Homo sapiens: one gene and its partners. The protein of the gene in region 2 purifies or fractionates together with the protein of the main gene of each other region. This does not show direct contact. Each region holds a gene or a part of one and is shown on either strand. Other genes may lie near its edges. The genes, in order: ALDH5A1, KLF3, GRHL1, TPM4, TOMM70, ME2 and GLUD1.

What was found.
Region 1: the proteins of KLF3 (region 2) and ALDH5A1 purify together in Homo sapiens (affinity purification with mass spectrometry, with the first as the bait; one large-scale study listed by BioGRID). This does not show direct contact.
Region 3: the proteins of KLF3 (region 2) and GRHL1 purify together in Homo sapiens (co-immunoprecipitation; one large-scale study listed by IntAct). This does not show direct contact.
Region 4: the proteins of KLF3 (region 2) and TPM4 purify together in Homo sapiens (affinity purification with mass spectrometry; one large-scale study listed by BioGRID and IntAct). This does not show direct contact.
Region 5: the proteins of KLF3 (region 2) and TOMM70 purify together in Homo sapiens (affinity purification with mass spectrometry, with the first as the bait; one large-scale study listed by BioGRID). This does not show direct contact.
Region 6: the proteins of KLF3 (region 2) and ME2 purify together in Homo sapiens (affinity purification with mass spectrometry, with the first as the bait; one large-scale study listed by BioGRID). This does not show direct contact.
Region 7: the proteins of KLF3 (region 2) and GLUD1 purify together in Homo sapiens (affinity purification with mass spectrometry, with the first as the bait; one large-scale study listed by BioGRID). This does not show direct contact.

Annotation. Positions count from the first base shown.
Region 1 is NC_000006.12:24,525,969-24,529,468, forward strand, and holds part of ALDH5A1 (succinate-semialdehyde dehydrogenase, mitochondrial isoform 2 precursor), read left to right. Parts: intron 1-2,028; coding exon 2,029-2,198; intron 2,199-3,500. UniProt on the Homo sapiens protein: Catalyzes one step in the degradation of the inhibitory neurotransmitter gamma-aminobutyric acid (GABA).
Region 2 is NC_000004.12:38,688,199-38,691,698, reverse strand, and holds part of KLF3 (Krueppel-like factor 3), read right to left. Parts: intron 3,115-3,500; coding exon 2,628-3,114; intron 1,971-2,627; coding exon 1,820-1,970; intron 1-1,819. UniProt on the Homo sapiens protein: Binds to the CACCC box of erythroid cell-expressed genes. May play a role in hematopoiesis.
Region 3 is NC_000002.12:9,996,693-9,999,734, reverse strand, and holds part of GRHL1 (grainyhead-like protein 1 homolog), read right to left. Parts: intron 771-3,042; coding exon 706-770; intron 1-705. UniProt on the Homo sapiens protein: Transcription factor involved in epithelial development. Binds directly to the consensus DNA sequence 5'-AACCGGTT-3'.
Region 4 is NC_000019.10:16,093,495-16,096,994, reverse strand, and holds part of TPM4 (tropomyosin alpha-4 chain), read right to left. Parts: intron 3,460-3,500; coding exon 3,397-3,459; intron 3,312-3,396; coding exon 3,242-3,311; intron 1,732-3,241; coding exon of another isoform or gene 1,649-1,731; exon of another isoform or gene 251-1,648; intron 1-250. UniProt on the Homo sapiens protein: Binds to actin filaments in muscle and non-muscle cells. Plays a central role, in association with the troponin complex, in the calcium dependent regulation of vertebrate striated muscle contraction.
Region 5 is NC_000003.12:100,366,590-100,370,089, forward strand, and holds part of TOMM70 (mitochondrial import receptor subunit TOM70), read right to left. Parts: intron 2,547-3,500; coding exon 2,449-2,546; intron 1,578-2,448; coding exon 1,455-1,577; intron 1-1,454. UniProt on the Homo sapiens protein: Acts as a receptor of the preprotein translocase complex of the outer mitochondrial membrane (TOM complex). Recognizes and mediates the translocation of mitochondrial preproteins from the cytosol into the mitochondria in a chaperone dependent manner.
Region 6 is NC_000018.10:50,877,951-50,881,917, reverse strand, and holds the start of ME2 (NAD-dependent malic enzyme, mitochondrial isoform 1 precursor), read right to left. Parts: upstream 2,801-3,967; 5' UTR 2,610-2,800; intron 1-2,609.
Region 7 is NC_000010.11:87,070,844-87,074,343, forward strand, and holds part of GLUD1 (glutamate dehydrogenase 1, mitochondrial isoform a precursor), read right to left. Parts: intron 1-3,500. UniProt on the Homo sapiens protein: Mitochondrial glutamate dehydrogenase that catalyzes the conversion of L-glutamate into alpha-ketoglutarate. Plays a key role in glutamine anaplerosis by producing alpha-ketoglutarate, an important intermediate in the tricarboxylic acid cycle.

The DNA of each region.
Region 1 (3,500 bases), on a different chromosome or scaffold from region 2:
AGTAGGTATCTAGGCAGACTACAGCTTCAAGAGCGAGGCTAGGTACCTCAGGGTAGGGCTCTCTCGACTTTGCCTTTTGGGGAAGGGAGCTGCCCTTATGTGAAGCCTGCAAGTTAGAATAAACCCAAGCTTAAAACAGCAAAGACCACTCATGCCACACATCCCCAAATTGATCAACCCAGTCCTTGTGTGTGTGTGTGTCCCCCAAACACACTGCTGGAGCTGAGAAGGAGCTGACCAGGTTAGTTTCGACAACTCAGTCCTTCATTCAGAAAGATGAACAACCAAGGATCATGATGGGAAAACCACCAGCACATAAGAGGAAAGGTCAGGAAGAACAAACAGAATAGTCCCTGAAGGAAGCAGATAAATTAGGGAACTGGAAGGAAATTTTCTAAAAATCTCATAGTGTCCTGCAAGAGTTTTGGGAAGATAGTACATCTGTAAACTGTTAATAAGAAGTATGTTCTAGGCTTAAAGTATAATAATAATAAAAAAAGAAGTATGTTCTAGGAAATGAAGCAATGAAAACAAAGAGTCTGTAGAAATTAGACATATGACTGTCACAAGATTCGGTACCTGAAGTAGATGATAAAATTTCGGAGATCTTATGGAGTTTAAAGCAAACTATAGAGAGGCAAAAAATATAATAGAAATGCAAAAAAAAATCAGAACTAATCTGAACTCCTGTTAATACCCGTCCAGTAGTAGGAGTTCTGGAGTGAAATAATTGGGAAAATGGAGGAAGTGACATTACCAAGTAAATAATAGATGGAAACTTCTCAGAGTTAGGGGAAAATAATTATTCTGCAGATTGAAAGATTTCACTGCTTACCAAGTAGGATGAATGAAAAGGGAATATATATATATCTTCTCTATATATATATATTCTATATATATATATCTTCTATATATATATTCTATATATATATCTACTATATATATATTCTATATATATCTACTATATATTCTATATATATATCTAATATATATATATGTGTGTGTGTATATATATATATATATATATATATATATATATAGTATTGCTAAAATTTTAGAATATCAGAGCATAGAAGATCCTAGGAGATTTCAGAGAGGAAAAAGCTATCAAGAAGAAAAAGGGTGAGAACCATTTTTGGCTCAAACTTCCTCAGCAACACCGGAAGTGGAGAAGTGCACTCAAAGTTCTGAAAGTTATTTTGTATCAGAATTCTGTACTCAAGCAAATTATCAATCAGGTGGAGTACAAAACACCAGAAACTTGGTGTATGAAAATTCAGAAACTAGACCACATCCAGTGCATCTTTTTTAAAACAACTACTTGGCCAGGCCTCGTGGCTCACTCCTGTAATCCCAGCACTTTGGGAGGCCAAGGCGGGTGAATCACGAGGTCAGGAGTTCGAGACCAGCCTGGCCAAGATGATGAAACCCTGTCTCTTCTAAAAATACAAAAATTAGCCGGGCGCGGTGGTGGGTGCCTATAATCCTAGCTACTCGGGAGGCTGAGGCAGGAGAATCGCTTGAACCTGGGAGGCAGAGGTTGCAGTGAGCCAAGGTCATGCCACTGCACTCCAGCCTGGGTGACAGAGCGAGATTCCATCTCAAAAACAAATAAATAAATAACAACTACTTGAGATTATGTGTGTCAGAAAGCAACAAAAACTCAGTTCAGGAAATAGGACAACATGGGATCCAAGAAGCTAGAAATAACCGCAGAATGCAATGAAAGCAAATCCAAGCAAACGGCTGAGCCGCAGGCCTAGAAAGAAGCGAATATATATTAGACCATTCAACAAATAGGAAGATCAAACAGCTAGAAGATATCAAAGACCAAGGAGGAAGGTGGCACTCTTGCTTCTGAATCTCTGCAAATGTGGTTCCTTCTACAAAAGGAAACCAGCATGCTTTATTGTTAACCTACTTTTTTTGAAAAAGAAAAAAAAATGGAACTAGTTATAGTTTTCTGCAGTTTAAACATTCTAAAAGATTGTATCATGTGGAAAGCTTTTTTTCTTCCTCATTACACAGGTGGAGAAACAGGTGAATGATGCCGTTTCTAAAGGTGCCACCGTTGTGACAGGTGGAAAACGACACCAACTTGGAAAAAATTTCTTTGAGCCTACCCTGCTGTGCAATGTCACCCAGGACATGCTGTGCACTCATGAAGAGACTTTCGGGCCTCTGGCACCAGTTATCAAGTAAGATCCTCCAGCCAGCGGGGAGATGGGAGGAAGAATAGAAGAGAACATAGGAAACCCTGAAAGAGATTCCTGGGCTGCTTTGAGGTCTGGCCAGGAGGCAGACAGTTGTGTTGAGTCCATTGAAGAGCAGAGTGCAATTTATGGGTTTTTAAAAAAATCATAACTTATTTGGACCATAAAATTTATCAAATTCTATTTTTTTTTTCTTTTTGAGATGGAGTTTCACTGTGTTGCCCAGGCTGCAGTGCAATGGTGCGATCTTGGCTCACTGCAACCTCTGCCTCCTTGGTTAAAGCAATTCTCCTGCCTCAGCCTCCAGAGTAGCTAGGACTACAGGCACCCACCACCATACCAGGCTAATTTTTTGTATTTTTAGTAGAGATGGGGTTTCACCATGTTGGCCAGGCTGGTCTCGAACTCCTGACCTCAGGTAGTCCTGCGTTGGCCTTCCAAAGTGCTGGGATTATGGGAGTGAACCACCATGCCTGGCCTCAAATTCTTTAATTTACTTTTTCTTACTTTCTGCTGAACTCTTTTTTTTTTTTTTCTTGAGATGGAGGATGGAGTCTTGCTCTGTCACCCAGGCTGGAGTGCAGTGGCATGATCTCAGCGATTCTCGTGCTTCAGCCTTCCGAGTAGCTGGGACTACAGGCACGCGCACCATGCCTGGCTAATTTTTTGTAATCTAGTAGAGATGTGGTTTCACCATGTTGGCCAGGCTGTTCTTGAACTCCTGACCTCAAGTGATCCGCCTGCCTCTGCCTCCCAAAGTGCTGAGATCACAGGCATGAACCACCGTGCTCAGACCTGAACTCATTTTCCTTCTTAATGTATTATACCTCAAAGGATTCTTTCATTGGCCTCCATAGGACATGAACTTTCTGTGTCGTTTTGTGGTCTTTTATCTCCCATTCACAAGTAGATAATAATTTACCTGGATAAAATTTTAGGTTCAACCCTTTGGAGATATTACTCCTTTATCCACTTTTTTTTTCTTTTTTTTGTTTTTTGTTTTGATATGGAGTCTAACTCCGTCATCCAGGCTGGAGTGCAGTGGTATGATCTCGGCTCACTGCAACCTCCACCTCCTGGGTTCAAGCGATTCTCTTGCCTCAGCCTCCCGAGTAGCTGGGACTACAGGCATGTGCCACCACACCTGGCTAATTTTTATACTTTTAATAGAGACAGGGTTTCACCATGTTGGCCAGGCTGGCCTCAAACTCCTTACCTCAAGTGATCCAACAGCCTCAGCCTCCCAAAGTGCTGGGATTACAGGTGTGAGTCACCACGCCCGGCCTC
Region 2 (3,500 bases):
ATAAGCATATTACTCATTAATCATTAAAAGCCACTGAGCTTGAGATCATCAAAAGAATATTACTTAAAATAAAAGTATTTTCTTTTGAGCAGCATTCAGAGCACAGAATATTGCCTTCAAATCTTCTTATGTAATGTTTTACGTTGCAACTCATAATAACCCAGACTTTGGAATAACACTTGTCCAGTCAACGGATCCCTCCCTTGGAGGCAGTTGGTTTTATTTAGTTTTATAGCATCTCTTTCATCACCCATGCAGGAACAACTATAAGTGCAGGCCACGTTGCTAGTTACCTTGCCAGAAACATCCCTCAACATAAAAAAAGAGTTAATTCCACCTCTAAGATGTGTCCATTTTGCCTAGTCATTTTTTCCTTTCACTTGAGTGCATGAGCAGATGCAATGGGTTGGATATGACAAGATGGCAGGAAAAGCCCTGATTCGGAAGCAGGAGATCAAGCCCAAGGCCCCTCAGTTGTTAGCAGGGTGAATATTGGCGAGTTATCTAATGTCTCAGGTAATCACTTTGCCTTTTGCTCCGACTCCCACAGGCTTGTTGTGGAGGAATAAAATAATTCCTTTGAAAACACCTGGGAAGGTTTTTTTTGAGGTAAGAGGGCACTATGCAATTGTGAGGAATAATGAAATATAACTCCATCAGAGACTCTCTCCCTACCTGCTGATGAAGTCGGCTAAGAGTTATTCTCTTCTTCATCTATTGGGGAGCATATGACAACCCAAACCAAAAATGACTATGATTGGGTGCAGTGGACAATTAATCCATGAGCTACTATGAAGGTACCTACCCAAGCTGAATGTGGATACAACTAGGATATATTTGAAGTTACCATAAAATAGTTATTCTAAAATCAGAGAATTCACATTCTGCTGTAGAGTTAATTGTGAGAGGGAGCGGGGTACAGGGGGTAGAGAAAATAAAGGAGAAAGGTGGGTAGAACATTTATTCAAGTTGGAGGAAAATGATGCAGGAGGACAATGGAAGGGACCCTGTGGAGGTAATCGTTGCCTTCGTACTAGGAAGCTGGCTGCTGAATCCAATGCTGAAGCACCATAACACAAGACAATCACAACTACAATCAATAATGAAAACAGAAATGGGGCAGCAAGATTAAGTGACTAGTCCAAGATCATACATATGGCAGAGAGCAGAGGTGGGATCCTTGTTGGACCCGAAAACCATCTTCTTAGCAACTACAAACCCAGCCTTCAGTGTAATCACTGGTGGAGGTCAAGGTTATCTACAGCAGGATCCCACAAATGAGGTTACTGAAGCTGTGTGTGGCAACTACCACATTATACCATGTTAGACCTACAAGAAACCACCATTCAGGTGCTTGGATGCTGACCAACACTGCACAGCCTTCCTACTGGATAGCAATTCTACAGGATACTATACACTCTGTAAGGACTATGTGTGTCCACATGAAAACTTTACATGATCCACAGAACACCAAGTTTAATCTATACAAGGATTCTCATAATGGAAAAACTAAGTATACATAGCCTGGAAGAATGGAAAAAAAACAAAAATAATTCATGTGGTAAGGTGCAAAATCATGGATGACTGATTCCATGAAAACTTGATGTAACTTTTGTCATAACGTTGTCAGTGTAACAGCATATTGTTTTTGGAGAGATTCTCCCATCTTGACCAGTGGTACTGGACCAGTGGCGGCCACAGATCACAAGCCGTTCCTGGTCATCCACACCACATCACACGTGTGAAATCTTGTGCTTCTGCTCCAGGTTCCAAGATGCACACTACTATGCAAATGCTGGGTAGACCTAAATATACTTACTCTTGCAACAATGCTTGCGGGGGGGACACTGAGTTCATTAAGGGGGGTGACATTTCTTCAGGATAATAATCTGTCCTCTGTGGTTCGATCCCAGGTTCTATTTTAATTTTTTTCTGTGATATAGGCTTCTCATATGATTCAATTACAGGTACTAAAAAATAAAAATAGAAAAGTCACTTCACGTACAGTTTACCAATTTCAGCTTTTAAAAGCTTACTGCATAGCTCCTACCTACAACACAGATATGACAGGTTTATTTGCCTTTGGCAGACTATAGCAGGAACAAATCTGTGGGAGATTCTCACCTCTCCTGACCATTATTTTGCCAGTAAGCAGCAAATATAGGGACCTAGATTATAAGACACCAGCCCTGAAATGATTCGTTCTTATAATTCTGGATTATTTCCTTTCAACCCCTTAGTCCTCTATGACCAGCTGATAAACAAGGTAGCTTTTGATCACCATTAGTTTTCACCACAATCAAAAAGGATTTATTAAATGCCTTTTGTACCTAGAACCATGTTGGTATTCAAGAAAGCAACATAAAGTCAAGATTCTTTCTATCCCCAAGTTGACCATTACATAGTGAAAGTAATCATGTCATGGTATCAAACAGACAGCCTGATTCTTGGGATCTCTTCCAGTATCAACACTTTGGGGGGGCGGGGGAAGGAAATGCCTTAGGCAGATGAGTATTTCCTTTGAAGAGTTCAACAGCTCTTGCCCCCATGCTTCCTCACCCACCCCATCTGGTGAAGCGCCAGTACGCTAAGCAAGTGCAGCAGCATGGAGCAGTGGCGGAATTTACCTTGCATGCTACTACTGGAATTTTCCATCTCCTCCGATAAGGAGACCATGAGAGGCTGCTGGAGGTGACTTGTGTACATAAAGGGGACGGGCTGCACCACCACCGGCTGGATGACGGGCAGGATCCCCGGGCTCCGTATTCCATGCCGCGAGAGGGCAGCTGCCATCACTGGTGGCATGGACAGCGGCACGCCGAAGGGCTGCACGCCTGGAGAAGGGGGTGAGTATTTTTTTATCGGTGGGCTGGAAGAAGGCATGCTCAACCCAGGCGAGGCTCTCCGGTGTGAGGACGGGAACTTCAGAGAGGAGGGCGAATTCCCAGCCGAAGGGGGTGAACTCCGCTTGTTCACCGTGAGGTCCACTGGCTCCATCTGTATTCCGTGCGACAGACCTTCTGGGGTCTGAAAGAACTTCTCAGGCAATGGTGTGGAGTAGATGACCCCATACTTGTTAGGCTTCATGGATTCCATGTAATTAGATGGGTATGACTATTAGAAAAGAAAAGGAAAACGTGTCAACAGCCAAATAAGTCCATTTACTTGAAACATGAATTAAGAAAAATATGCTAACAAGGCACTTAACAATTACATGGGCTTTACAAAATAGTTTAGATTTCGATATATATGTGACCTTAAAAAAATGCTCAAAGAGGTGGTCTCAACATTAAAAATGCTATGAGAGGCGGTCTCAAAAATATTAAAACTAAGATCAATGTGGTCACTACTGCAGATGAAAAATCTGAAATTTAATCCTAAGATGATTCCTGTGTCAAACATTAAGGCCGATACCTGGCAAAATTCTAAGACAGGTGATAGCACAGGCTTGGGGGCCATTATCATTAGGAGTCAGAGGTGGGCATCACAAGAACCAGTCA
Region 3 (3,042 bases), on a different chromosome or scaffold from region 2:
CTTATCCATGCCAAACATCATAGACAGACAAAAAAGAACTAAAAATACTAATTTCTAGACAAAGCAGCAACGTGACATAACTTGGAAATAGGATCCTGAGCAGGAGGGTAGAGCAGGGCATGGGCTGCAGAGGCAGGGAATACCAACCATGGCCCCGAAAAGCCTCTTGAACTCTGAGCCTCAGCCGCCTGTCTATAAATATAAACAAGCCCTGAGACCAGCTCAGAAAGAAGACGTGAAGACCAAGCGCAGCACCGTGGGACGTGCCCAACCCAGTGCCCGGCTCCAACGGGCTCGACACACGGAGGTGCTGCCCTGGCCATCCTCAGTGGCGCTGGCCACACACCCTGGAGTGTGGAGCCATGGCACTGCTGCCAGGCATGTGGAGGGCAAAGAAGGTGACTTGGAGAAACAATACACAAAGATCTCCTCAAGGCAGATCAATTTTATCTAAGTAATTTCGTATATAATTTAGAAAAGCCACATTCCAGCACCCAGGTTTCTTTGGCTGCTTCTGGACTGGGCACGATGCACACGTGTCACACTGGCACAGGGTGTGTGTCACTGGCACAGGAGGGTGTCACTAGCATGCACGGTGTGTTACATGGTGCTGGGGGGTGTCAACAGCACTGGGGGGTGCGTCACACTAGCACTGCGGGGGGCATCAGCACTTTCCGAGGTACACAGGACGCAGTGGCTGCTTACCCCTTTTTACACTTCTTGAATATTTTCCCAATCTTGTCATGGGGAACATCGTATTTGTCTGAGATCTAAAAGAGGAAAGAAAAATAATTACAAAACCCTGTATCAAGGCTTTAGAAACCAAACAACAAATATATATATATGTATATATATGTGTACATATATATACGTATATATATGTGTACATATATATACGTATATATATATGTGTACATATATATACGTATATATATGTGTGTACATATATATACGTATATATGTGTGTACATATATATACGTATATATGTGTGTACATATATACGTATATATGTGTGTACATATATATGTATATATATGTGTGTACATATATATGTATATATATGTGTACATATATATGTATATGTATATGTGTACATATATATGTATATGTGTACATATATATGTATATATATATGTGTACATATATATGTACATATGTATATATATACATGTACACACATATATACATATGTATATATACGTATATATATGTATATATATACGTATATATATGTATATATACGTATATATATGTATATATATACGTATATATATGTATATATATACACACACACACACACACACACACATGCATAGTCACTCGACTTTTTGTTTTTCAAAAACGCAGACACAAAGACATGGAAAAGCCCCAGCTCGTGTGCTGGGGGCCTCCAGCTCTCCTCAGCCCGGCTGCCCCTCACTGTAATGAGCTTCTGGGGAGCTGTGGCTGTCTTCCTTTCGGGACATAGAGGCTATTTTTAATATTTTTAAAGAGAATGGGTGAATTGCTCCAAGGACAAACAGCTGATTCACTCTAGATCAAACGTTACACTTGTCATCCAGACCATCCTCAGGCTGGCATCACCAGCTTCACCTCAAGCCACAGAGCAAAGCTCAAGGTGGCACTGAGAAACAGAGCCTCAGGTGGCAAACGTGCAGATCCTGCCAACCTTCCAAACACGTGTTTCAGACCAGACCCCAGCTCCAAGTTCTCACCACACAAACCCTTTTTCTTTTCTGTACGAGTGGATGATAATACTTTGTGTTCTGACATGTAAGACCTGTCATGAGTTCCTCGTGAGCCATGAACAGTTATGCTGGCCCAGTAATTCTGCATCCTCTTTACTCTCCTCTTTCCCTGTAATCAGAATTTGCATGTTTTTTGTTTGTTTGTTTTTTGTTGTTTTTTTTTTTTTGAGACGGAGTCTTGCTATGCCAGGCTGGAGTACAGTGGCGGGATCTCAGCTCACTACAACCTCCACCTCCCTGGTTCAAGTGATTCTCCTGCCTCAGCCTCCCGAGTAGCTGGGATTACAGGCGCCTGCCACCAAGCCTGGCTAATTTTTTGTATTTTTAGTAGAGACAGGGTTTCTCCATGTTGGCCAGGCTGGTCTCGAACTCCTGACCTCAGGTGATCCTCCTGCCTCTGCCTCCCAAAGTGCTGGGATTACAGGTGTGAGCCACCGCACCTGGCCAGTTTGCATGATTCTTAAGACATGATGAAGGGTCATCAAAAGGCAAGAAAAGAGAAACCCAGGGGACATCCTAGGAGGCAGGAAGTGACAGTGGGAACGGCGCTGCCTGTGCTGTGGGCAGGCAGGGATGCACTGAGTGACACCCGTGGACTTGGGGCGCCTGGCTGAGAGACCGCACAGCAGCTCCCCAAACCCACGCCCCATCTCCCTGCTTTATTAATCTTCATGGCACTCATCAGTACCTGAAAAATGACCTCAACTTCTTTGCTTATTTTGGTGTCTGTGTCTTCCTAACTACAAAATAAACTCCATTCAGCACTGTGTCACTGACGCGCATAACTCCAGTGCCCGCCACAGTGCCTGGCATGAAGCAAGCCCTTTATCAAGATGTGTTAAATGAATTCAACACACTACAGTCATCAGAGGGAGCTGGGGGAGATGCTTTTAGCCCAATTATGGACACACTTTGAGCTTAAAGATCTCTACGGTCTCTAGGAGACAGGCTGGTAAATATCTGCACTCAGTGCTGATGACATGCGTTTTTCCAGTGCACAGCTGGAACGGGAAATTAACACAGCAGCCTTCCATGTTTCCTCTCTTACTGATATCCCCACAGGGAGCATGGGGTCAGTTTATTCCAGCCTCGTGCTGAGATCCTCGTAAGATGGACTTACGGCCATCACTGGTTACACGTCTACTTTCTCTGCAATAGGCTGTAGTGAGGTCTTGATGCAAGTTCAGTAATTTCCTAGGATTGGGAGTTTTAAAGGTAGACTGAGGAGCCACTGTTTTTATGTATGAAGTTTTTAAGATTGTACTTGATTAAAAATCACTTTTGTTAGCTTCT
Region 4 (3,500 bases), on a different chromosome or scaffold from region 2:
GCAACAGAGTGAGACCCTGTCTTGAAAAAAAAAAAAAAAAAAAAAAAAAAAAAAAAAAGAGTGACCTTGTTTTCTCCATATTCCTCATGTAGGAAAAAGCATGACCTTTTATTACCCACAGGTCAACCTTAAGAGCTATTCTAAACTAAAGCAAGGTTCCTGTTATAACTAACTGAAATATGAATGGAGATTGATGTTAGCAGTCTCAGGCAATTCTGGAATTCGGGAAAAGAATTCTAAATTCACGTCTTCTGACGTCACAGCACTTTCCCTGTTCATGGAGGCCCGTTCACTCCTTGTACAGTCAGTTTTCTAAGGGCAGGGCGTGGAGGTGAACTTCCTCCCAGGACTGGGAGCTGGATGAACAGTGAAGAGTAAAGCCACGGGAAGCCCCAGTCACCACACTCACAGTGTAACACAGAGAAAAGACACAAGAAAAGGAGGAAATGGAGATCAAAATGTCACTGCCGCTGTTTGAATCTGTAGCTCAAGCCCCATTCAAGGGGAGCCTCATTTTTGACACAGGCTTGCTGGTTTTTCCAAATCCCTGTTGACTCTTAAGCTGCCTAAGCGGTTTACAAGGATGAGCCTCCATTCACAACAATTTCTATTTAAGGAAAAACCATTGGGGATGGGCGCGGTGGCTCATGCCTGTAATTGCAGCACCCTGGGAGGGTGAGGTGGGCAGACTGCCTGAGCCCAGCAGTTCAAGACCAGCCTGGGCAACATAGTGAAACCCTCCCGCTTCTACAAAAAGTACAAAAATGGCCAGGCGTGATGGCTCAAGCCTGTAATCCCTGCACTTTGGGAGGCCAAGGCAGGCGGATCACAAGGTCAGGAGTTTGAGACCAGCCTGACCAACATGGTGAAACCCTGTCTCTACTAAAAATCCAAAAGAAAAATTAGCCAGGTGTGGTGGTGTATGCCTGTAATCTCAGCTACTTGGGAGGCTGAGGCAGGAGAATTGCTTGAACCCGGGAGGCGGAGGTTGCAGTGAGCCGAGATTGCACCACTGCACTCCAGCCTGGGCGACATAGTGAGACTCCGCCTCAAAAAAAAAAAAAAAAAGTACAAAAATTAGCCTTGTGTGGTGGTGCACACCTGTAGTTCCAGCTACTTGGGAGGTCGAGGTGGGAGGATAGCTTGAGCCTTGTAGGTGGAGGTTGCAGTGAACTATGATGGTGTCACTGCACTCCAGCCTGGGTGACAAAGCAAGACCCTGTCTCAAAACAAAAAAACAAAAAAAAATTATTGGCATGCAGATGCCGTTAGCTAACAGCGGTATCTGAGAGCACATGCCCAGTTTGCTTTTGTTTTCACGTCTTCAGAAAAGCATCCTGTAGGCATAATTTTCTTTTTGTAATAAGCTTTTCATTTGTGAGTGAGAGAGGCTAACCACCCACTTTGTGTTTCAGGCTATGGTTAAGGGCACACAGCTACAGCTCAAAGGCAGCAAGTGGAGAAAATGAGAATGAGGGGGCATGAAGAGGAGGACTGCCCGTCTTTATTTCGGTTGTAGAGTCACAGACACATCAGAAGAAGGCTCTGACGTTCAAACCAGAAGGCAGGCCACCGGAGCTCCTAGAAGCCCACAGGGGCGTAGGAGGCACCATGTGAGAAGGACAGAGGGCAGCGACCTGGCTGCCTCTCAGAGAGAGGTCATGTCGTTGAGAGCGTGGTCCAGTTCCTCGCTGATAGCTTTGTACTTGAGCTTCTGAGCGTATAACTCATCTAGAGGGCGGAGGTCCCCAGGGAGACAGTTCAGAAGTACAGGGGACAGAAGGCAAGGGTCGGAATGGAGTGCCACAGATGAACCACAAGAGGAAGAAAAAAACACGTGAGCAAACAAAGCACAGACTAGGAGAAAGCTGTGTTCCATGTGAAACAGATGAAGAAAACCAAAGATCTATGGAGTTGATCTCTAAGTGGTTTGAGGTTCTGCAGGGGGATTAGCCACAATGAAGCTTCAAAACAGTGGTAACCAGAAGTGACAGAGCTTCCCCCCACTGGTCCCCACCCCTCAGTTTATTTCGGATTTCCAATGACGTCACCCTGTCCAAAGGTCGTATTTTGGAATGGGGCATTTTCCCTTATATGGGAACCTCACTTCCCCAAAAAAACATTGGAAGATATGGTCTGAAGAATGTGTCCTTTCTGGGTGGGATGGGCAGTTTGGAAGATTCCATTTGAACCCCAAGATTCTGGAATTTCTGAGGCCGAATGTTAAACACTGGAACTCTTGAAAAAATTCTGGGAGAAGTGGGCCCCAGACTTGCAGACTAGTCTTTATTGCAGTCCCTACACTTTCTGTATTTCTGTTTTTTTTTTTAAATACTATGATAAGCTTTGAGCTCCCTGGGACAGAGCTTCTGCAAAAATGCAAGGCATGTAAAAAAAAAATGCAAGGCATCTATCAGAAATGAGCAAACAGAAGGAAATTGTGAAGTTTTTTTTTTTTTGAGACGGAGTCTGGCTCTGTCACCCAGGCTGGAGAGCTGTGGCGTGATCTTGGCTTACTGCAACCTCCGCCTCCCAGGTTCAAGGGATTCTCCCTGCCTCAGCCTCCCCAGTAGCTAGGATTACAGGCGTGCACCACCACGCCTGGCTAATTTTTTCTATTTTTGGTAGAGACGGGGTTTCACCATGTTGGCCAGGTTAGTCTCAAACTCCTGATTTCAAGTGATCCGCCCGCCTCGGCCTCCCAAAGTGCTAGGATTACAGGCTTGAGCCACTGCGCCTGGCCTGAGATTTTTAATTTATTATTAATATTTTTTTAATCAGAGAGAGCCATACTCTTTTCTCTATACTTGCTCATGGGACTAACTAAGCAGAGATATTTTACCTCCTGAAAGTGGCAATTCAATTAGCCAGGTGTGGCGGCACACGCCTGTAGTCCCAGCTACCTGGGAGGCTGAGGCAGGAGAATCACTTGAACCCGGGAGGCGCAGGTTGCAGTGAGCCGAGATGGCGCCACTGCACTCCATCCAGCCTGGGAGACAGAGCCAGACTCCGTCTCATAGAAAAAAAAAAAAAAAAAAAAAAGGGCCATTCAAGCCTGAATGCTTTGCATTATCCTATTCCAGTGTTCCAGGACATCCAGATATGACATCACTATGCGCTTTACTTTCCTAAGGCAAACAAAGCCCAACCCAGCCCCTCCACAAACATTCCCCAACTGTCCGTGGATGTGTCCCAGAGGGGAAGGCAGGGCAAGGCAAACATTTAGATGGTAACCTCATACCTTCCAGGTCATCAATTGTCTTTTCCAGTTTTGCAACCGTTCTCTCTGCAAATTCAGCACGGGTCTCAGCCTAGATAAGAAGAAAGGAGTTACTATCATGGCTTCAAGACCAGCCCCAGGAGAAACCAGAGCTCGCTGGGTGCCACCACACTCACCTCTTTCAGTTTGTCAGACAGAAGTTTAATTTCTTCTTCATATTTGTCCTCCTTTTCAGAATACTGTGGGAGAAACCAAAACACTGCTTTAAGAAAAGGAGGCC
Region 5 (3,500 bases), on a different chromosome or scaffold from region 2:
TTCAAGAGTTCATGTTCTGGCATTAGGCCAACAGCTAGCAGATCTGCAAAATCCTAGGATAATCTGCAATTTCATTTATTCAAATTCACTTATTTAATTGTAAGGTTCAGAATGGATTTTTTCAAAGTTCAATTAACGTGAACAAAATTCCATCAAACCCTATCAGAGGTCTTTAGTTAACCCAGGATCTATGAAAGCCTTGAATTAAAAGCAAAGTGTTTTTGTGTGCATTATTCTAAGAAGAATCCACAGCTTCGCTCAAAAAAGATTAAGAACTACCACCCTATCCTATTCTAGTACAAGAATATTTTATTCACATTAACAAATTAGCAATTAAGAAATAATTTAGGCTGGGTGCAGTGGCTCACACCTGTAATCCCAGCACTTCAGGAGGCTGAGATGGGCAAATCACTTGAGGCCGAGAGTTTGAGACCATCCTGGCCAACATGGCAAAAGCCCATCTCTGCTACAAATACAAAAAGTTAGCTGGGCATGGTGGTGCATGCCTGTAGTCCCAGCTACTTGGGTGGCTGAGGTACAAGAATCACTTGAACCTGGGAGGCAGAGGTTGCAGAGTCAAGATTGTGCCACTGTACTCCAGCCTGGGCTGGAGACTCTGTCTCATAAAAAGAAGAAAAAAAAACTTAATATTTACATGCCACTGTGGGTACAGAATGGTTAAAAGAAACACAATTTTTTTTTTACCAGCCTATATATATTCTGCCTACTGTAGAGCAGGGAGAGGACTACAGGAGGGGCTGAATGATAGGGAATTAAGAAAACTCATGCTGCTTCCTGACAAGTGATAATGCCAAGATCAGTGACTGTGGTATCAGTGATATATGAGCTCAAACCCTGTCTTCTCTATTGGCTTACTGTGCAACCTTGTAAACCTAAGCCCTCTGGGCATCAGTTAAATTAGGGATCATATAATCTCCACCTTTATAAAGATGGGGATGAAGATTAATTGAAATAGTACTTAGGAAACATCTAAAGTTTAATACTTGGCCTAAAGTAGGAAACTCAAATGAATGGCAATACCAGTATTAAGATGGTATACAATAAATCCCATATATAAAACAGCTGTCACCTTTTAATGGTGGATCTTAAGAGCAACTCTGGATAAACACTTACACAAAATAAGAGGTTAAGGACAGAGCTGCAAAAAATGTTCTTATCCAACTCTGATTTTAAAGAAAATTCAGGGGCTCTGAGTTGATGTTGCAACTTGCCCAGCCATTTGGCTGGATGCTTCTTTGGAGGAGGGTCCAGATTTTCTGGCAACTTGGCTACCAATCCTTATGTCACTGCCTTAGCACATTTTTTTTTCCAACGTGAATAATACAGGTGAAAAGAGGAAAGAACATAACAGACTTTAACATGTACGTAATAAGAACAAAAAGCTAAATATCTATGGAGCTACCATATATTTCCTAACAGACTCCAGAAGTTACCTTTGTACTTCAATAGTTCCCATGGTTTCATAGGCAAAATCACATTTATTGTCAATTTCAATAGCCTTGCTGATAAGTTCCAAACCTCTATCCAGATCTTGCTTCCACTGAAGTTGAAGTAAACTGCAAATGCAAAAAAATGTCAGATGTGACCATGGCCCAGTATCAGTAGGAATACACACACATTAATATGACTCAATTTCTGCCTTCAATGAACTTATAAGTTAACTTATAACTTATAAGGCAATATATAATCAGCATCAAATTGTGTTTTTTTTCTCAGCTTATATTGGTTTGCTAGTCTAAGTTCCTTATTACAAAAAGTGTTCAATGGTCTAGGCTCTATTACCAATCTTGCATCCCTTATTTTTCACTTTATATAAATTTAAGTGAAGTTTCTTAGGATAATTCAAGTACGCAAGGACACGAACACTTGTGTATGCTTCGTATTTGGATATAAGCCAACAGCTGACAGGATGTTCAGTTTGAAATTAAAACCCTTAACACAGAGCAAGAATAGTACATTAATTTCTTTCTTTTTGTTTTTTTTGGGACAGAGCCTCACTCTGCCGCCCAGGCTGGAGAGCAGTGGTGCAATCTTGGCTCACTGCAACCTCTGCCTCCCAGGTTCAAGTGATTCTCACTCCTTAGCCTGCTGAGTAGCTGGGAATCGGGCATGTGCCACCACACCTGGCTAATTTTTTGTAGTTTTAGTAGACACCGGGTTTCACCATGTTGGTCAGGAGGGTTTCGAACTCCCAACCTCAGATGATCTGCCTGCCTCGGCCTCCCAAAGTACTAGGATTACGTGTAAGCCACTGCGCCTGGCCTCCTTAACTAATTTCTGTAAGAATGAAAAGACATCTAGGAGCATTAAGAAGTTTGTCAATTAACTTCTCTACCACAGTCCCCTTCCTCAGTGGCCAAAATAAATACATTTTATTACTATGCAAGAAATTTATTATCTCATTGGAACAATCACAAAAATACATACCCTTTATGAACATATGTTGTAGCATTATCTGGTTCCAAATCAATACATTTATCATACATTTCATCAGCTTTACCAAACTGTTGTTGATCTGTTAATGCCTATGTGAGGAGATACTTCAGTTATATTAAGGTAACCGTCAACCTAAGCAGTTAAAAGTATACTTATTATTCATTATAAAAATTTACTTCATTCATTATTACAAAATTATCACGTTTTGGGGATACAGACTGATTTACATTTTACATCTTAATTATCGGAGTTTTTAGGTGGCACTGCTATAAATATGAAATCTTAACTATCCTCTTTCTTCAGCAAGTGGTTAGTTATATGCCACAGCAGATAATCTCTGGTAAACTGTTCAATACAGATAATCCCATTCTTAGTCACAGCTCTAATATCACATTCTCATAGGTACAGTCACATCACTTATTCATAATTTATCATAATACAGCCCAAGGGAATTTTTTTTTTTTTTTTTTTGAGATAGAGTTTCATTCTTGTCACCCAGGCTGGGGTGTAGTGGCGCAATCTCTGTTTTCTGCAACCTCCGCCTCTTGGGTTCAAGTGATCCCCCTGCCTCAGCCTCCTGAGTAGCTGGGACTACAGGCGCCCAACACCTTGCCTGGCTAATTTTTGTATTTTTAGTAGAGATGGGGTTTCACCATGTTGGCCAGGTTGGTCTCGAACTCCTGACCTCAGGTGATCCACCCACCTCGGCCTCCCAAAGTTCTAGGATTACAGGAGTGAGCCACCGCACCTGGCCAGGGAATTATCTTAAGGGCAATATTCATTTGGAAGTATAAGTTAAGATGTATGTGTTAAATGTCTTCAGAGCTATTTGTTTAAAATTATTGATTTTTTAAAAAGCAGCTATAACTGCTTCAACTAATATATCTCCAAAAATAATTCCCTAATATTATCTATAATACCTAGCCCATATTCAGTTAACCCCGGTTATTTATAAGATGACTTTTAAGAAGTATGTGAGTCATTATATTTAGCTGTATGGCTCTTAGTCTTTTCATATCTAAAATAAGCCAACTTAAATATTT
Region 6 (3,967 bases), on a different chromosome or scaffold from region 2:
AAATGGGAACGTTAAACTACAAGACCTATTTAATAGGCTATTTTAAGATTTAAATTAGATAATTCATTAAGATGCTTATCACAATGCCCTCTAGGTGCTCTAGAAAGGCTAGTTATCATAAGCATTACTATTAGTAGTTGTAGACTAAGGTGGTCACAAGGTGCCTTCTAAATGCCTGCTTGTTTCTGCATCAACATCTTTTAATGATCAAATTAATATAAGAGGCTATAAGGATAATCATGATTAACATTTATTCAAAATATTTCAAATCAAATCTCAAAGTCAAGAATGAGAATCTGGATGGTATACAAATACAGGCAACATCAAATGTCATCCTAAACAAGTATATACAGAATATATTTTTTATCACTTTTGAAATTTGTACATATTGATCAAAGGAGGTACAATATGCCACCATAAAATCAAAATCGTAACTTTCAAATAAAATAGTTAATTTCTAATAAAAGTTATCTTTTTATAAAGTCAATGTAATTTTTATTTAGTGTGAATTTTGTCCTGTAATATTAATCCTTAGTAAATATAGGTTTTAATGTTATTTGTGTTTTAAAATACGGCTAGTTCACCGGGCATGGTGGCTCACTCCTGTAATCCCAGCACTTTGGGAGGCCGAAGGAGGTGGAGCACTTGAGGTCAGCAGTTCGAGACCAGCCTGAAAAACATGGTGAAACCCTGTCTCTACTCAAAATACACACACACACAAATTAGCCGGGCATGGTGGTGCATGCCTGTAGTCCCAGCTACTCAGAAGGCTGAGGCAGAAGAAGCGCTTGAACGCGGAAGGCAGAAGTTGCAGTGAGTGGAGATCGCAACACTGCACTCCAGCCTGGGCAACAAGAGCAAAACTCCGTCTTAAAGAGAATAAAATATGTCTAGTTTGTCTGAAATTCACCAAAATCAATTAGAGTTTTTAACTTAATATACAGATTATACATACATAGCTGTAAGTTTTTAATTTTACAAAAGAAGTTCCCAAATGGTAAATGGGTTTTTTCCTTTATGAATATTTTGTTTTCATAAATATATTAAAAGACAAAAACATATAAACACCCTCTAAGGGTGTCACCCATAAGCAGTTCTCAGAAATAGCTACTAAGCATAAATATATTATTCTCAAGAGAATATTTCTACAGAAGCATAGCCCAACATTTCCTATTAATGCATGATAAAAGTCATATTAGGAGCTAGGCGCGGTCGCTAACGCCTGTAATCCCAGCACTTTGGAAGGTCAAGGTGGGTAGATCACTTGAGGTCAGGAGTTCGAGACCAGCCTGGCCAATACGGCGAAGCCCCCGTCTCTATTAAAATTACAAAAATTAGCTGCCCTCAGGTGATCCACCCACGTCGGCCTCCCAGAAGTGCTGGAATTACATGCGTGAGCCACCGCGAACGGCCTATATGTATGTTTTTAAAAACAACTGTTTCTCTCATCTAATTTACAGAGTATTTGTAAATTGAAAATCAAAATTATGGGTACAACATCGCAATTAGCTTAACAACATGAGCAATGCTTAAGGAGTATACACGTTTAAGGGAGTGGGGGTGGAGGATGCAGCTATGAAGTTAGACCACTTGAGTTTGAATCTAGGCTTTGTCACGTTAAAACTGTGGTCTTAGGCAAGTTACTTAACCTACCTAAACCTTAGTTTCCTGGTTTGTAAAGTGGAGGCAGTAACAGTATCAACCTCAAAGGGTTATTTTGAGATAATCCGTGTAGAAACTAGCGCTCTGCCTGTCACTAGCAATTAATACATGCTACTATTGTTATCGTTATCAACTGCAACACTAACAGAAATAGCAATGCTATTAACCTCTTTGCTTAGAGGTGATAGCCACAAGCATCAGGAAGGTAAATCCACAGACAGAAGATGATAAAACGTTTTGTAAGAAAGCACGTGTTAATTTGATCACGCTTCTCACCACAAGCAACGTAAATTTTCTAGAATTATCTCTGGAACCAAAAAAGAAAGTCGAAACCTAGGACCACCTAGGTAACACCACATGCAGAGATAGTTATCGCCAGCGTGAAAGAAACACCTGCCAATCCCGGTCCACAGATGGCATTTAATAATAGACGGAATCGGTCCAATCTCAGAACTCTCCAGCCCGCAGCAAGTCTTTTTTTAAAGGGAGGAGCCACACACACAGCCTAACTCCTGCCGTTAACTCGGCCCGACTGAATAAAGGAGATAGGCTTGCCAAAGGGTTTCCAGCCACAGAAGTCCTTTTGTGGAGGGGTGCAGAAAGAGCGAGAAAGAGATGCTGGCGTTTGGAGGCCCAGGGCCTCGCTCCCGGGCGAGAGCGGGGCGCCCAGGCACCAGCCGGCGGAGGAACCTGGAAATCGCGCGCCGGGTAGAGCCGCGGCCGCTGGAACCTGGGTCGCCGCGATGTAGCCGGTCCCTCGCCCTCAGCCCGGACTCCGCAGACCGCTTCCCTTCCCCCAGCCCCCACCGCCAGGCCGGGAACGGCGGGGGCCGCACGCGCGGAGGCCGGAGGCGCGGCAGCGCTGGGCTCTCGGGGCCGGGCCAGGGGAGGCCGGCGCCCGCTCCTCTCCCGGACCCCCGCCCGGGCCCCACCGCGCCGGGCCTTACCAGAGGTCTCGCGCCGCGACAGGTGGTACACCCGGCGGAGAGGCCGCGCCCTGCCGCCCGCCCTGGCGATGCTCAGCTCCCGCGCCGCCCGGCCCTCCCCTTCTGCGAGCCTCCCGGAGCCGCCGTCAGCTCAGGCTCACACTGGCGCGGGCGGCCCCACACGCAGAGGCGGCCCGAAGAGCGGCCGAGAGAGGGGAGGGCGCGAGGAGCCGGCCAGCCGCGGGGCCCGGAAGGCGTGGCCCACGGTGGAGACGGACGGGCTCGCGGGCCAATTGGAGGCAGGAACCGGCCGGAGGGGCGGGCTCCGTCTGGAGGCTTAGCTGCCGGCGCTGGGGTTCCTGTCCTCCGCGCCTTCCTCAACCCAGCTCCTGGAGGTTACGGTTCTGAGGCGGGGCGGGCGGCCTCGTGGACGCGATGCTGAGGATGTGAGAAGTGCAGTGCGGAGGAGGAGGTGGAGCTCCGCCGCTCCATGAAGGAAGCCGGGGCTGGCCGACCGCGCCCCCCAGCACTCCTGGCCCGGGGGTCCCAGTCTCCGAACCCGCGGAGGCCAGGGAAGCTGGGAGTTGGGGTCTGTCCTGCCTGAGCCACAGAGGAAGGGGGAGAACGGGAGGGCAGGAGACGGCAAAGGAAGGAAGAAGAGGACCCAGGAAATGCGAGGCTTCCGCACTTCAGCGACGCTTTCACTTTCCGAGCTGTTTTGTGTGCTTAGGACTTGCTCTTCTGCAGAATTCTTTGCCACTCCTCATGGCTGCTGGCAAGGTTATTGGCCTGCGGTGAATTTACCAATCACCTCCACTGTCACAGTCACCATAAATAGATGCTCAATGTTCTGCCTCAGAAAAGCACCGGAACACTTAATTGTCTTGTCCTTGAAAGCCGCAGGGACCGTGCCTTCCAACATCCCTACCCCCGCCCTCCCAACGGTTGTGACATGGGAGGATATTTCTTCACCCTTATTTCAGAAAATGTTATCACCCAAAACTCTTTACTATAATGAGCTTGTGTACTCTTAAAACAAGGCATGGTAATGACAATTTCAAAAATAAGATGTAAAATATAAAAAAAGAGGCAAGGCAGAATAAAATTAAAAGTGATGGAAATGTAGGATTGAGAAGATGGAGTGGAAGTAGGGAAGAGTGAATTGCTCCCTCCTAAACTCTGACAATTAAATAAAATCTGGGGCAATCGCCCCTCTCTGAACATTGAAGGGTGGGGCCTGTGAGGAGGAAACTCCAGTTAGGTGATAATCCATAGGTGTGGTTGCTATAATAACCACCGCAGGCAAGGAGAGGTTATAAATATGAATGACCTAAAGTAACTCTGCTTGCCAGGAACTTACAAGATGCAGCAGGTTGGAT
Region 7 (3,500 bases), on a different chromosome or scaffold from region 2:
CCTGAGGCCGGGTGCGGTGCTCATGCCTGTAATCCTAGCACTTTGGGAGGCCGAGGTGAGTGGATCACAAGGTCAGGAGATCGAGACCATCCTGGCTAACACAGTGAAACCCTGTCTCTACTAAAAATACAAAAAATTAGCCGGGCGTGGTGGCGGGCGCCTGTAGTCCCAGCTTCTTGGGAGGCTGAGGCAGGAGAATGGCGTGAACCCGGGAGGCGGAGCTTGCAGTGAGCTGAGATCGTGCCACTACACTCCAGCCTGGGTGACACAGCAAGACTCTGTCTCAAAACAAAAACAAAAACAAAAAACAAGTAGTTCCTGAATAACAGATATATTCTTTTTGTTTTTTTTTAATTTTTATGTTTTGAGAAGGAGTTACACTCTTGCTGCCCAGGCTGGAGTACAATGGCATGATCTCGGCTCACTGCAACCTCCGCCTTCCAGGTTCAAGCAATTCTCCTGCCTCAGCCTCCTGAGTAGCTGGGATTACAGGTACCTGCCTGGCTAATTTTTTTTTATTTTTAGTAGAGACGGGGTTTTACCATGTTGGCCAGGCTGGTCTCGAACTCCTGACCTCAGGTGATCCACCCGCCTCAGCCTCCCAAAGTGCTGGGATTACAGGCATGAGCCACCATGCTTGGCCTAACAGATAAATTCTTATATAGAGAACAGGTATGAGGCAGAAGTTAATCTTTTTTAAAAAAGCAACTTTTCTAACAGCATGTGACTATAGAGTAGGAGATGAAAGGGTAATTTTGGTACACAGAGATATAAGGGGATGAGAAGGGTGGAGACATCAGGGTCCTGCAGAACTTAGGTGATATTTACACTCACACAAGAGAATGAACATTGACCTTTCAAAAGCTTTTCCAAAAGCAGAAGAGGAAGGAACACTCCTCAACTCATTCCATGAGGCTAGAATTGTCCTGATACAAAGACTAGACAAAGACATCATAAGAAAACTATAGACCAATGTCACTTACAATAGCATTAAAAGGAGTAAAATATTTAGTTGTAAGACTTCTATGTAAGACTTCTACAATGAGAACTACAAAACATCATTGAAAGAAATCAAGAGACCTAAATAAATGGAAAGACATCTCATATTCAGCATTGGAAGGCTTAATATGGTTAAGATGGCAATACTGGTCAGGTGCAGTGGCTCATGCCTATAATCCCAGAATTTTGGGAAGCTGAGGTGGGAAGACTGCTTGAGCTCAGGAGTTTGAGACCAGTCTGGGATACGTGATGAGACCGTGTCTCCACAAAAAATTAAAAAATTAGCTAGGCACAGTTGCACACCCCTGTGGTTCTAGCTACTTGGGAGGGTGAGGTGAGAGGATTGCTTGAGCCCAGGAGGTCAAGGTTGCAGTGACTGCTGTCTGGTACTCCAGCCTGGGTGAAAGGACAAAACCTTTTTGGGGAGGGTGGGGAAGATGGCAATACTCCACAAATTAGTGTACAGATTCAATGAAATTCCTATAAAAATCCCAGCCTCTTTTTTTCTTTTGTTTTGCAGAAATTTACAAGCTGATGCTAAACACACATGTGACAGGATCAGGGTTCAGGCTCAGGTCTGAGCCTCAATCTGACACTCTCTGTGGAATGGGCAGTCAGGAAATAACAGATAAATAACATCAAATTTGAAGGTTTGCCGAGGAGTGAGAGAAAAAACTCCCTTTGCCTACCTCCTAGGCTTCAAAGCTTTCTGGGCCAAGACGTCAATTTAACTGCATCCTGGGTCAATGAGGCTTTTGCACATTAAGCAAATAAATCAAATTACTAGAGTTTAAGCTGTGTTTTCTTTCAGTATTCCAATGAATCACTTTTTGACCTTTGGAATTATTAGGTACTTGTCAAGTCTGATAAAATTAAGCTGGAGATATTGCAGATATGGGTGACAAATATGACTGAATAAAGTCTGAAACCATTCAAGACTATAAAATGTGTTTGAGATTTAGGGGAAGAGGAAAGACCTTTTAAAAATTATGAAGGCTATTAACAGGCTGAAGATGACTTCAATTCACCATATCTCAGAATCAGTAGGCACTCCTATAAAAGTGTGAGCGAGATAGTTAACTCATATTAACTTACGTTAACAGACTCCATGTAAGGATGCACAAGTTCACAGTAGTGCTGGGTATGCGGCACATCAAAGGCCCAAATGCCTTTTATTATCAAAGACAGGCCAAATCTAGTCAAGTTTTAGAGTTACCTATACTTACTGTATTTCTATATTAGGTTATTTCATGACATTTATTTCATGACTTTTTTTTCCTAAAAATGAATCCGAATAGCTTTATTTCATTTCTCTTTCTTCTTGAGATGTGGTCTCGTTTTGTTGCTCAGGCCAGAGTGTGGCAGGCCAGAGTGCAGTGGCACAATCATAGCTCACTGCAGCCTCAACCCCCCAGGCTTAAGGGATCCTCCCATCTTAGTAGTTGGGACCACAGGCATGCACCATCACGCTTGGATAATGTTTTCATTTTTTGTAGAGATGGGGTCTTGTAATATTGCCCAGGGTGGTCTCGAACTTCTGGGCTCAAGTGATCCTCCCACCTCAGCCTCCAAAAATGCTGGGATTACAAGCACCAGCCACCATGCCCAGCCTTTATAGTTTAATTTCATGGGAACTTGTGGGGGAAATGCTAAGAAAGGAAAGTAGAGAAAAATACACTTTATTTTCTATTTAAGTAGACCTTATTTTGTTTAACTATACTGATATTGATAGGACAAGTATTCTATTATTAAGTAACAATTAACATTCTTTTTTTTTTTTTTTTTTTTTTTTTTGAGACGGAGTCTCGCTCTGTTGCCCAGGCTGGGGTGTAGTGGCGTGATCTTGGCTCACTGGAAGCTCTGCTTCCCAGGTTCACACCATTCTCCTGTCTCAGCCTCCTGAGTAGCTGGGACTACAGGCACTCGCGACCACGCCTGGCAAATTTTTTGTGTTTTTAGTAGAGATGGGATTCCTACTAAACCCCGTTAGCCAGAATGGTCTCGATCTGACCTCGTGATCCACCTGCCTCGGCCTCTCAAAGTGCTGGGATTACAGGTGTGAGCCACCACGCTCGGCAGTAAGTATTAACATTCTATTAACTATACTGATAGGGCAAGCATTCTATTAAGTAGTTATGCATATTCTATTCAAACAAATTAGAAGCCTTCTAGATTAAAAAAAATATAGGTTTAAACTGCTTGAAAATTAAAGGGTACATGACAAATACTTACATATCATAAAAAGAATATTCAGATTGTGCACAAAGAAAATATAAACACAGATAATAGTAAGATACAAAAACATCAAGCAAACAAAGATTAATATCTTCAGAAATGTTGTATGTTTGGCAAAAGCTCCTATAACAAATAGTAGGAGGCCGGGCACAGTGGCTCCTATCTGTAATACCAGCAGTTTGGGAGTCCGAGATGGGTGGATCACCTGATGTCAGGAGTTCAAGCCCAGCCTGACCAACATGGCAAAGCCCCATCTCCAGTAAAAA